3 linked regions of the Homo sapiens genome follow. The protein of the gene in region 3 interacts with the protein of the main gene of each other region in a biochemical or structural test. Each region holds a gene or a part of one and is shown on either strand. Other genes may lie near its edges.

Region 1 (2,682 bases), on a different chromosome or scaffold from region 3:
GTTCTCAAGTCATTCAGTCTCAGTTATTTTACTAATCTGAGATTGGTTAGTAAAATAATAGCTATTGTGATACTATAAAACCAAAATTATTTTGAACTCACTAATAGTAAGATTGAATGTTTACAAACAGAAGCATAGAGTCCCCAACTTAATTTTTTGACTTTACAATGGTGTGGAAATGACAGGCATTCAGTAGAAAGCATACTTCAAGTACCTATACAATCAATGGTTTTCACTTTCAGTGTTCAACAAATTACCTGAGAGATCCAACGCTTTAGTATAAAGTAGGCTTCATGTTCTTTGATTTTGCCCAACTGTAGGGCTAAGTGTTCTGGGCACATTTAATGTAGGATAGGTTAAGCTATAATGTTCATTAGGTCAGGTGTATTCAGTGCAGTTTTGACTTCGTATTTTCAACTTGCAATGGGTTTATCAGGGTGTAGCCCCATTTTAAGTTGAGGAGTATCTGTGTCTGAACTCTTACATTCCTTTTGAATATCCACTGAAGCACAATTCTAATAACAGCCAAGGCACTCACAATCACATAATTAACTTTGCTAGTTTTAAAATGTCCACTTTATTCCATATAACACTTAACCAGATATCATTTACATCTGAGGAAGAGATGGCCCATGAGACTGATCTATAGTAAAACACTCTAAGAAATGCAGTCCAATTTTATACACTTCCAGGCATCCCTAGACAAGTGTGTCACAATGCACAATGTGGAAATATAGGTATCACTACTACATTTTACATAAAAGGGAAGTATCAATAAACTTTAGAAAGTAGTAAATTCACCTGTCCCTTAAAATATGGGTATGCAATTGTTACAAAGCCATAGTAAATGGTTTATAAAATGTACTTTTATTTTATGTTACTCTGCTGTTACATAGGGCATAACATTTTCACAAGGCTTTTTTGGGACTACAGTCAATGATTAGCAACACACAATAGTGGTCCAACTCTCTAAATAACAATCACTAGACAAACTGGACACCCTCTCACATGTGCACAAATCTGCATGGAAAAGTACTAAAGTTTTAGACTTGGACTTGTGTACTTTAATTTATTTCCCCTTTCTAGTGTATTAAGAAATGACATGCACTTTAATTTGCCAAAAGCAATGCTTGTATTCTGGCAGCAACATGCTACTTCTATCACATAGTAAAGTGAATACCAGAACTACAAAGGCAGGAGGTGTAAGTGAATTTTTATTGGGAGGGGAGGTTGGCAACTTAAACAGCAGCAAATAAAGAGTGAATAAGGAAACTCCCTGTTGCCACAGATACACAAGACCTCCGTATGTGATACAGGAGCCATTTCAATTTGTGACCCCTAGACAGAGATGGCAAGTGCTTTTCCATTCAATCTAATACTTCCGGATTCCTACTAAAAAGGAATACATTAAGAGCATGGAAAAGTTGCTTACTGAAAGGAAACCCCCGAAGAGTAAGGGAGGGAATGTAGAAATTAAGAAGTTATGTGGAATACTCTTTAAATTGTAATTAACTACATTTTCTTATTTTCACAGTAATACAAAACACAGTCACTTGCAGAACTGGTTCAGATTACTTAAATACCAGATACATTTTTAGTCCTCTACATAAGTGTTTGGGAGTTACTTATGTTTATATGAAATGAAGCTATTAATACTTTTCTACAGCAGTACTGCACACCAGGAAGGCCAAGACAAACACAAATCAAGGAATGAAGTTTTCCCAAAGCTGCAGTGTGAAAAGACTATAAACAGTTGATTCCATACACATGAATGGGTTTCTTTGCTATAGGAAATCCAAGTGGAATAAGGAATGGAGATGTGTAAAAAGGTTTCTTGAAGGAAAGAAGGATGACACCCTGTATGGATTTAGTTTTCAGCCCCTTCTGCCGCATCACATTCTTCTCCTGCACTGTCTGATGTCCAAAGCTAGAAAAAGAAGAATCATATTAAGTTACTATTTCTAGATTAGGCAATTACACTAAGTAGTATTGTTATATCAAAATTAACTACAAGAGTAGTAAATTCCTCAAACAATGGAGATCTTGACTAAGACTGAAGTTCTCTCTCAAAACCCCAAAGACCATCACCTTCCCAAAGTACATCCTTGCAGACCTTTCACTATGCACTTACAAAATGACATACATACATACATACATATACCACTGGAGCATGGTTTTATAGCTTCCTTTTTATTTAAAAAGCATTTGGCCAGGCACAGTGGCTCACGCCTGTAATCTCAGCACGTAGGGAGGCCAAGATGAGAAGATCGCATGAGGCCAGGAGTTCAACAGCCTGGACAACATAGCAAGATCCCACGTCTACAAAAAATTTCAAAAACAAAATTGGCCAGGTACGGGGTGGTGTGTGCCTACAGTCCTAACTACTCAGGAGGCTGAGGCAGGAGGACTGCTTGAATCCAGGAGGTTGAGGCTGGAGTGATCCATGATTATGACACTGCACTCCAGCCTAGGCAACAGGGTGAGATCCTTTCTCAAAAAAAAAAAAAAAAAAGAGAAACTTTTTTAAAAAGGCACTCTACTTTCAGAATAAGCAAAGTGATAGTCTCTATTCCCAGCAGCCCAATGCTCTTCTTGAAAGCACTACTGCATTATTATTACAGACTAATAAAGCAAAACATTTTCACAGGGAGGAAAAAGCCACAATCATGGTTAACAATTTTC
Region 2 (3,651 bases), on a different chromosome or scaffold from region 3:
CATTCAGCTTCCTTTGCTTCTCCCAGAGGCTGTGGCCAGGCCAGCTGGGCTCGGGGAGCGCCAGCCTGAGAGGAGCGCGTGAGCGTCGCGGGAGCCTCGGGCACCATGAGCGACGTGGCTATTGTGAAGGAGGGTTGGCTGCACAAACGAGGTTAGTACCCGCTGCCAGGGCTGGGCCTGGGGAGGGAGAGATGGGGGTAGTAGCCCCAGGGTCTGTGAGTGCCTGTGCCCTGCTGGGTGGGAGGGGCTGCCTCCCCTGGGGCTCCTGGGCTGGCCTAGGGTGAGTGTCCTGGGCCCCATGTCTTCCCATGGCATGGAGGGCACGGCCTCGGGGAGGCCAGGAGGATGAGGCCCTGTGCAGGGCCGGCCATCTGAGTGGCTTCCTGGTGTGGGCCCTGGCAGGCGGGGGAGCTGCTGCCAGCCTCTCTCCTGGCTTTCCTGGAAGGCAGCGAGGACACTGGGCTGTTCCAGGGTCTGGCACGCTGGCGGCCCAGGGCACTGCCCAAGGGCTCCTGAGGGCAGGGCAGGGCTGCTTGGCTTGGCCTGGTGCCTGCTTCAGGCCTGAGCTTTGGGGGTGGGGGGAATCCGTACCGCCTGGGCACAGGGCATGTTTGCCTTGGAGCTGCAGAGCTGGCTGAGCCAAGTCCCCCAGCCCCTGTGTCCCCCTCCTCACTCATTTGGCCTTGCAGCCTATGGAGGAGGTGCTGCCCGAGGGGCCTGGCCAGCAGCTGGGTGGGATGGGAGCTGGGGACATAGCCCCACCCCTTCCAACCCTGTGCAGGCCCTTCTGCCTCACCCACCCTCCGTTGCTCAGCGGGGTGCGGTGGAGTCTGGGTGGCTGTTTTGCTCCTCTGTCCTGCTAGGGTGGGCTTCCTGTTCAGGTCCAGGTCCTCTGGCCAAGTCACTCTCTTCTGCCCCAGGCGGAATCGGTCCGCCCTCTCCTGACTTCTTTTTCCAGACTTGTTCCCTCCTAAGTTCTAGTGATCTCATGCCAGCAGCCCCCCGGCTTTACGTACACCCTCTAGCAGATGGGTTTCACATCTGGTAGTGGGGAGACCCCAAACACAGCTGGAGCAGACAGGGAGGTGTGGCAAAAGTAGGTGTCACAAGATGGGGCATTGTGGGATGTATAGGAGCTCACAGAAGAGCAGGCCTAAGGAGCCACAGGAGCCTGGGGGTGGGGTGAAGGAGTGACCGAGATGAGATGCTGGGGGAATCAGGGGTGTGGCTGGCTGTGTGTTTGGAGTGTTTGAGTGGGCAGCTACCAGTGATGGCACGCGGGGCCTCGAGATGAAGACAAGGAGGCTGCAGACGCCTGTGGTCCTTGGGGAGCTTCTGGCTCTGCTTCCCCCCAAGGCCTCCTGCCGCATCCTGCCTTCTCCATCCCCTCCCCGTGTGCTGTCCCCTGCTTGTTCCCCAGGAGTCCTGCCACCTGTGCCTGGAGGTCCTCTCCTCACCTCACAGCCCTCTTTGGTGTCAGGGACCCCCTGCCCCGACCCTGGCCCTGTTCCTCTCTGTGTCACATAGTCTGCTGCCTGGGGCCGCTGCTTCTTTATCCTTGGCAAATGTGTGTTTGTTGATAGACTGTTGGATCTCGGGCTGACCCAGGAGATGCCAGGGCCTTGACTGCCCAGGGGCCCAGGCCCCAGTTACTGGGGCACCCATCAGCCAGCTGGGCCTAGGCAGGAGTGCTCCCCCGAGGCCAGGTGATTTTCAGGCTGCTGCTGATGTCGTGCCTTCAGGAGGGGCCTGGCAGGGACAGGACATCAGGCCCAGTGGGGCGTCCAGAGAGCTGAGTTTGAACCCTGGTTAGCCACTCTATCGCCATGACCCTTTCCAAGAGCAAGGTCATTGAGCTCCTTGGGCCTCAGTTTCCCCATCTACACCAGGGAGCGGTGGTGGGAGAGAGACCTGGTGGAGTGGAGAATGGCTTGTGGGCGGCCCTGAGTTGGGGTCCGGCCAGCCTCAGCAGCCTCTGGGCTCTGTCATCTGGCCCCTAGCCTCAGGCCAGGAGAGAGGGTCCTGTACCTCTACCCCCGGCTCTTCCTCCTCCATCCCCAGTGTAGTGGGCGCTGAGGATGGGAGGTGGCGTGGATATGACATATGCCCTTGGCAGGCATAGCCCCTCTTGTTGCCGAGAGCAGGTGGCGTCCACCCGCATGGCCGGCCGCTCCTTGCGGAGGAAAGCCTGTCCTCCGGGGCCTGCCGCATTTCGCCACTCCCGTCCCTGGGGTCCCCTGTGTGTCTTGCAGATGTGCTGTGCCACCCTCCTGGCAGGGCCAGCCCCACCCGCAACACTGGTTAGAGGTACTAGCTGCCTTCCTGTCCCTAGCAGGGCTGTGCTGGGCTGACCCCACCCGTGCTTCACAGTGCTCAGGCCTGGCTGGGGGTGGGGAGGGAGGGAGGGACGCAGTGACTGTCCTCCAGGCCCGGCCGCAGCCCCTTGCAGACGCCCTGTTCCACTCCCCCCCAGCCTTGCTCCTGCAGGTCAGGGTGCTTGTCTCAGAGGCTGGCCCGCACCTGTCCCCTTTGCCGGGACTCCCCACGACCGTGGCCTGGGGCACTTTGGTTCTCAGCTGAATCCCCAGGTGACAGTCCCACCACGGCTACTTGGGCTGGCCACACGTGGCGTGATGGTGCCTTCAGGGGTGATGTGGTCATTGAGATGAGAGGGGACGGGTATGCCCTGTGTGTGAGGGGTGGGGTGGCAGTGTCTGCAGGCTCCTTCTCCTGCTCCTTGGGAGGTGAGCGTCATCTCTGGGAAGTGGCCCAGGCTGCTTTCTGTTGTTCTGATGTGTGTGCTCTGAGTCAGAGGAGCTTCAGGGACAGAAGGGACCGGGCATGGGGACACAGGAGTTCCGGCTGCAGGCCTGTGTGGACCTGTGGCTGGACCCAGGCGAGGCCTCTGGGTCTGCACATCTAACAGGGAGATGGTTCCTGGAGGGTGAGCTTAGGCTGTTAAGGGCAGGAGCTAGTGAGGAGGCTGGTGGGGCCTATAGGGACAGGGGGCCAGATGTCCCCTCCTGTTTCGGCTGTCTCACTGGATAAGCAGCCCAGCTCAGCTCTGGCCATTGGTGGTCTGGTGGGCTCAGTGTTGCTCAGACGTTTGCATTTTCAAAGATTTGTTCTGTTGTGTGAAGTCTCCTGATTTTTGAAGGCTGACAATTTTAAAAAATCAATCCTGGGCCAGGGCGCAGGTCTGGCTGAACTCGGCCTCCAGCCTGCAGTTTTCCTTCCTTTGATAGCTCCGTGCCAGGCTTTGGCCAGAGGCTGTGTGGCTCTTTTGAGGTACTTTCCCCAAACAGCTTGCTCACCTTGCCCGCTTGCCCCAGTACTCCTGGGGCCGTGCACCAGCCTGGCTGCAGCCTAGCCCCGTGGAGAGCTGCCCTGGTGCAGCCCCGGCCTGGAGCCTGTTTTTGTCCACTCGCGGCTGTCTTCCTGAGCGTCCCCCCGTCCACATGGCTGGACCAAGTGGGTCAGGAGAGGGCCGAGGCGGGTGGCCGGGATGCTGGGACCCAGGATGAGGTGCTCTGGGCTCTCGAGAAAGGGCTGGGCCTAGGCCAGGAGTGGGTGCCGGCCGCAGGGGCACCACCTGGACTCCCTCAGGCTGGTCGCTGTCCGAGAGGGGCCGGGGAAGAGCTGCAGGCCTGG
Region 3 (3,651 bases):
GGGCTCATGCAAGAAGGAAGATTCACTCAAAGTGGTGTCCTGGGAGTCAGCGACGGTGGACGGGTCAGCCTCACTGGACAGGTCTTCCGTTGAGAAGGTGAGACTCCCCAGCTTGGCAAGAGAGTGTGAGCGCTTCAGTGGGGAAGAGACGGTGAGGCCCGCCAGCCGGAGCCGGGTCTCAATCTCCTGTGTCCGCTGCTTCACCAGCCCGGGCTTCCCACGGACACTGTGGATGCTATCGCTGCTGGAGCTCCGGGTCAGGTTGGAGCTCATGGAAGAGGAGGTGGGGGTGTAGCAGATGGTCTTCAGAAAGTCTTTTGAGAAACTACTGGTGTGGTCCAGGCGGTAGAAGAAAGGAGGGGGGCTCTTCAGTGAGCCTCCTTCCAATGAAGCGGGGGCGGCCTCTGACTTCTCATCACTCCCGGCCTGGCTGGGCATAACCAGGGGGCCCAGCTCGTGGAGCGCGGCTGGATCCTGGCTCTCCTCGGGGATGCTGGCCTCCAGCCTGCTGGCAGGGCCATCCCTGGAGGGAGGTGCTGGGTCTGCAGGCACGCTCTTCAGCCGCTCTAGCTCTTTGGTGTGCTTGCGGACCAAGCCTGCCTTCTGCAGCTGAATGATGGACTCCTGGTGCTGCATCAGGTAGCTGTTGGTTGTCGGCTTCTCAGATTCATTACTGAACAGAAGCCTCAGGTCCTTGGCTGGCTTCATATCTTTCTTGGGTGACGATTCTTCCTTTATTACCACTTCTGTGCTGGGAGGGTTCTTATCACAGTGAGAATTCTTCAAAAGGAGGGACTTTGGCAGGACTTTTGGGGTCTCTCTGGAAGGTTCCAAAAGGCTGGCTGGTGGCTCTAGGGCAGCTCCAGCCCCAGGGCCACTGGTGTCTGCCCTCCTGGAGCCTGCTGGTGGTAGGAACGGGGGAGGTTCGGTTGGGCCAGAGGCTGGCTTCTCCGGAACACGGGACCTGCTGGCCAAGTGGGCCACAGGGGAGGACGTGATGTGGGGTAGGAAGGCTGGCTGGGTGCAGATGGCGGGAGCATTGGGGTCCTCACATCGCTCCCTGGAGGCCTCAGGAGCCCCGCTGGCTGTAGGGTACATGCAGTCGGCACAGGATTTATAGGAAGGCTTCACTTTGTTAAGGATCCCAAATATAGCATCATCCTGCAAGGAAGGGGACAAGAGCATGGTGAGACGGTGCAGTCATGAGCCAAAGACCAAAAACATGAGGGTGGGCAGGGAAAGGGGTGCGAGGCCGGACTGGGGGCCAGGCCTGGAGGGGAGGCTCTCATTTCACTTAATACTGACAGACAGACCTCCTGGAGCCCACTTGATCGAGAATAACCACTGGCCTGAGGTGGATTTTATACCCCAATAGAAAACAAGTTTACATTGTTTCCTAAGGAAACCCTCCTGCCTTTTGGTCAGTGAGGATCTAAGTGAACGTGACACATGCCTCTGTGTCCCCACCCTTCACTTCCTTACAGGCCAACTGACAGGTACCCAGTGGTCCTGGGAATGGACTAGAAAGCTGTGTGAAGAGTCCCAGGGGAGAGAGGGACAAGTTCTAAGTCTCCGCGGAGGGAAGGCTTCCCAGAGGAACTGACACTTCAGCTGAGGCTTCTGGGACAAGCAGGTGTTGACCAGCCAGAGAGAGCAGCATGCAGGTCCAGAAGCAAAGCAGGAAGGAGGAGGGCACCCCCCTACCCCACCCCGCCTGCACAGGACTGTAGGCTGGAGGGCAGGACAAGGCAGGAGGGCAACAGGGCTCTGTCTCTCTCTCTTTCAAACAGATAAGAGACAAGGTCCTACTATGTTGCCCAGGCTGGTCTCGAACTCCTGGGCTCAAGTGTTCCTCCTGCCTCGGCCTCCCAAAGTGCTAGGATTACAGGTGTGAGCGACTACACCCCGCCAGCTCTGTCTCTCAACACCTCCTTATGTCCTTGCCCCATCCTCTGAGCCACTGTGATCCCAGCATCCCAACTTCCCCTCTTACCCCAGCAGCCTGCCTGTAGACCACAGCCAGAGGGGGCTCATCACCCACCTGCTTAAAGGCCCCGCCATGGCTTCCAGTTTTTTTTTTTTTTTAAATGAAGTTTCGCTCTTGTTGCCCAGGGTGGAGTGCAATTGCGTGATCTTGTCTCACTGCAACCTCTGCCTCCCAGGTTCAAGCAATTCTCCTGCCTCAGCCTCCTGAGTAGCTGGGATTACAGGCATGCACCACCACAGCCAGCTAATTTAATATTTTTAGTAGAGATGTGGTTTCACCATGTTGGTCAGACTGGTCTCAAACTCCTGACCTCAGATGATCTGCCCGCCTCAGCCTCTCAAAGTGCTGGGATTACAGGCGTGCGGCACCATGCCCAGCTAATTTTGTATTTTTAGTAGAGACAGGGTTTCACCATGTTGGTCATGCTGGTCTCAAACTCCTGACCTCAGATGATCTGCCTGCCTTGGCCTCCAAAAGTGCTGGGATTATAAGCGTGAGCCACTGCACCTGGCCCAGGGTTTTATCTCATCTGTCTTTATGGGTATTTGCTTTGTGGTAGGCAGGGAAGTGGGGGAAATCCATAATTAGTATTTGATTTGGAATGCTTTATGGAGGTCGACAGATGCAACTGCCCAGTTTTGTTTGCATTATAACATGCTGTTAATAATAATAAACTGGCTGTATACTTGAATGCATCTGTCAGGACCCCAAGTGCCCCCACTTGAGAACCACGGCTGTCCTGTGAGATGGGCAGGTGAAGCCAGAGGCAACAAAGTCAGCAGCAGGGCAAGGGTGGAAGTGGAGACCAGGCTGCACGGCCACCCTTCCACTGAACCAGCCTCTGCTCCTGCATCACTTCCCCCATGGAGGAGGGAAAAGGTTGGCTGGAATTAACCAATTTCTCAGTAAGCACCAGGTTGAAGCTCAAACCTTGTGGCAGATAATCCACTAAAAATGGCAACTCCAAGAGACTAATGGAGTTAAGTATTAGAGTCTAAGTTGGAAGGCTGGATACTTGACAACGTTGGGAAATTACTATCAGTTTTGTTTTTGTTTTTAGACGGAGTCTCGCTCTGTCACCCAGGCTGGAGTGCAGTGGCACGAACTTGACTCACTGCAACCTCTGCCTCCTGGGTTCAAGCAATTCTCGTGCCTCAGCCTCCTGAGTAGCTGGGATTACAGGCATGCACCATCACACCCAGCTAATTTTTATATTTTTAGTAGAGACAGGGTTTCACCATGTTGGTCAGGATAGTTTCCATCTCCTGACCTCCTGATCTGCCTGCCTCGGCTTCCCAAAATGCTGGGATTACAGATGTGAGCTACCGCGTCTGGCCCTATCAGTTTTTTTAAAAGGTGACAATGGTATTGTGGCTATGTTAACATACTGGAGCATTTATGAATAAAATGATATATCTGAGGCCAAGCGTGGTGACTCAAACCTGTAATTCCAGCACTTTGGGAAGCCAAGGTGGGCAGATGGCTTGAGACCAGGCTGGGCAACAGTAAGACCTCATCTCTACAAAAAAATAGAAAAGATTAACCGGGTGTGGTAGCATGCGCCTGTGGTCCCAGCTACTCAGGAGGCTGAGGTAGGAGGATCACTTGAGCCTGGGAGGTCAAGGCTGCAGTGAACCGTGATCATGCCACTGTACTCCAGCATG

What was found.
Region 1: the proteins of SSH1 (region 3) and YWHAQ form a complex in vitro, tested with the Homo sapiens proteins (one study listed by IntAct).
Region 2: of the proteins of SSH1 (region 3) and AKT1, one has a biochemical effect on the other in vitro, tested with the Homo sapiens proteins (one study listed by BioGRID).

Annotation. Positions count from the first base shown.
Region 1 is NC_000002.12:9,583,419-9,586,100, forward strand, and holds the end of YWHAQ (14-3-3 protein theta), read right to left. Parts: intron 1,928-2,682; coding exon 1,868-1,927; 3' UTR 549-1,867; downstream 1-548. UniProt on the Homo sapiens protein: Adapter protein implicated in the regulation of a large spectrum of both general and specialized signaling pathways. Binds to a large number of partners, usually by recognition of a phosphoserine or phosphothreonine motif.
Region 2 is NC_000014.9:104,789,098-104,792,748, reverse strand, and holds part of AKT1 (RAC-alpha serine/threonine-protein kinase), read left to right. Parts: intron 1-26; 5' UTR 27-105; coding exon 106-151; intron 152-3,651. UniProt on the Homo sapiens protein: AKT1 is one of 3 closely related serine/threonine-protein kinases (AKT1, AKT2 and AKT3) called the AKT kinase, and which regulate many processes including metabolism, proliferation, cell survival, growth and angiogenesis.
Region 3 is NC_000012.12:108,788,084-108,791,734, forward strand, and holds part of SSH1 (protein phosphatase Slingshot homolog 1), read right to left. Parts: intron 1,162-3,651; coding exon 1-1,161. UniProt on the Homo sapiens protein: Protein phosphatase which regulates actin filament dynamics. Dephosphorylates and activates the actin binding/depolymerizing factor cofilin, which subsequently binds to actin filaments and stimulates their disassembly.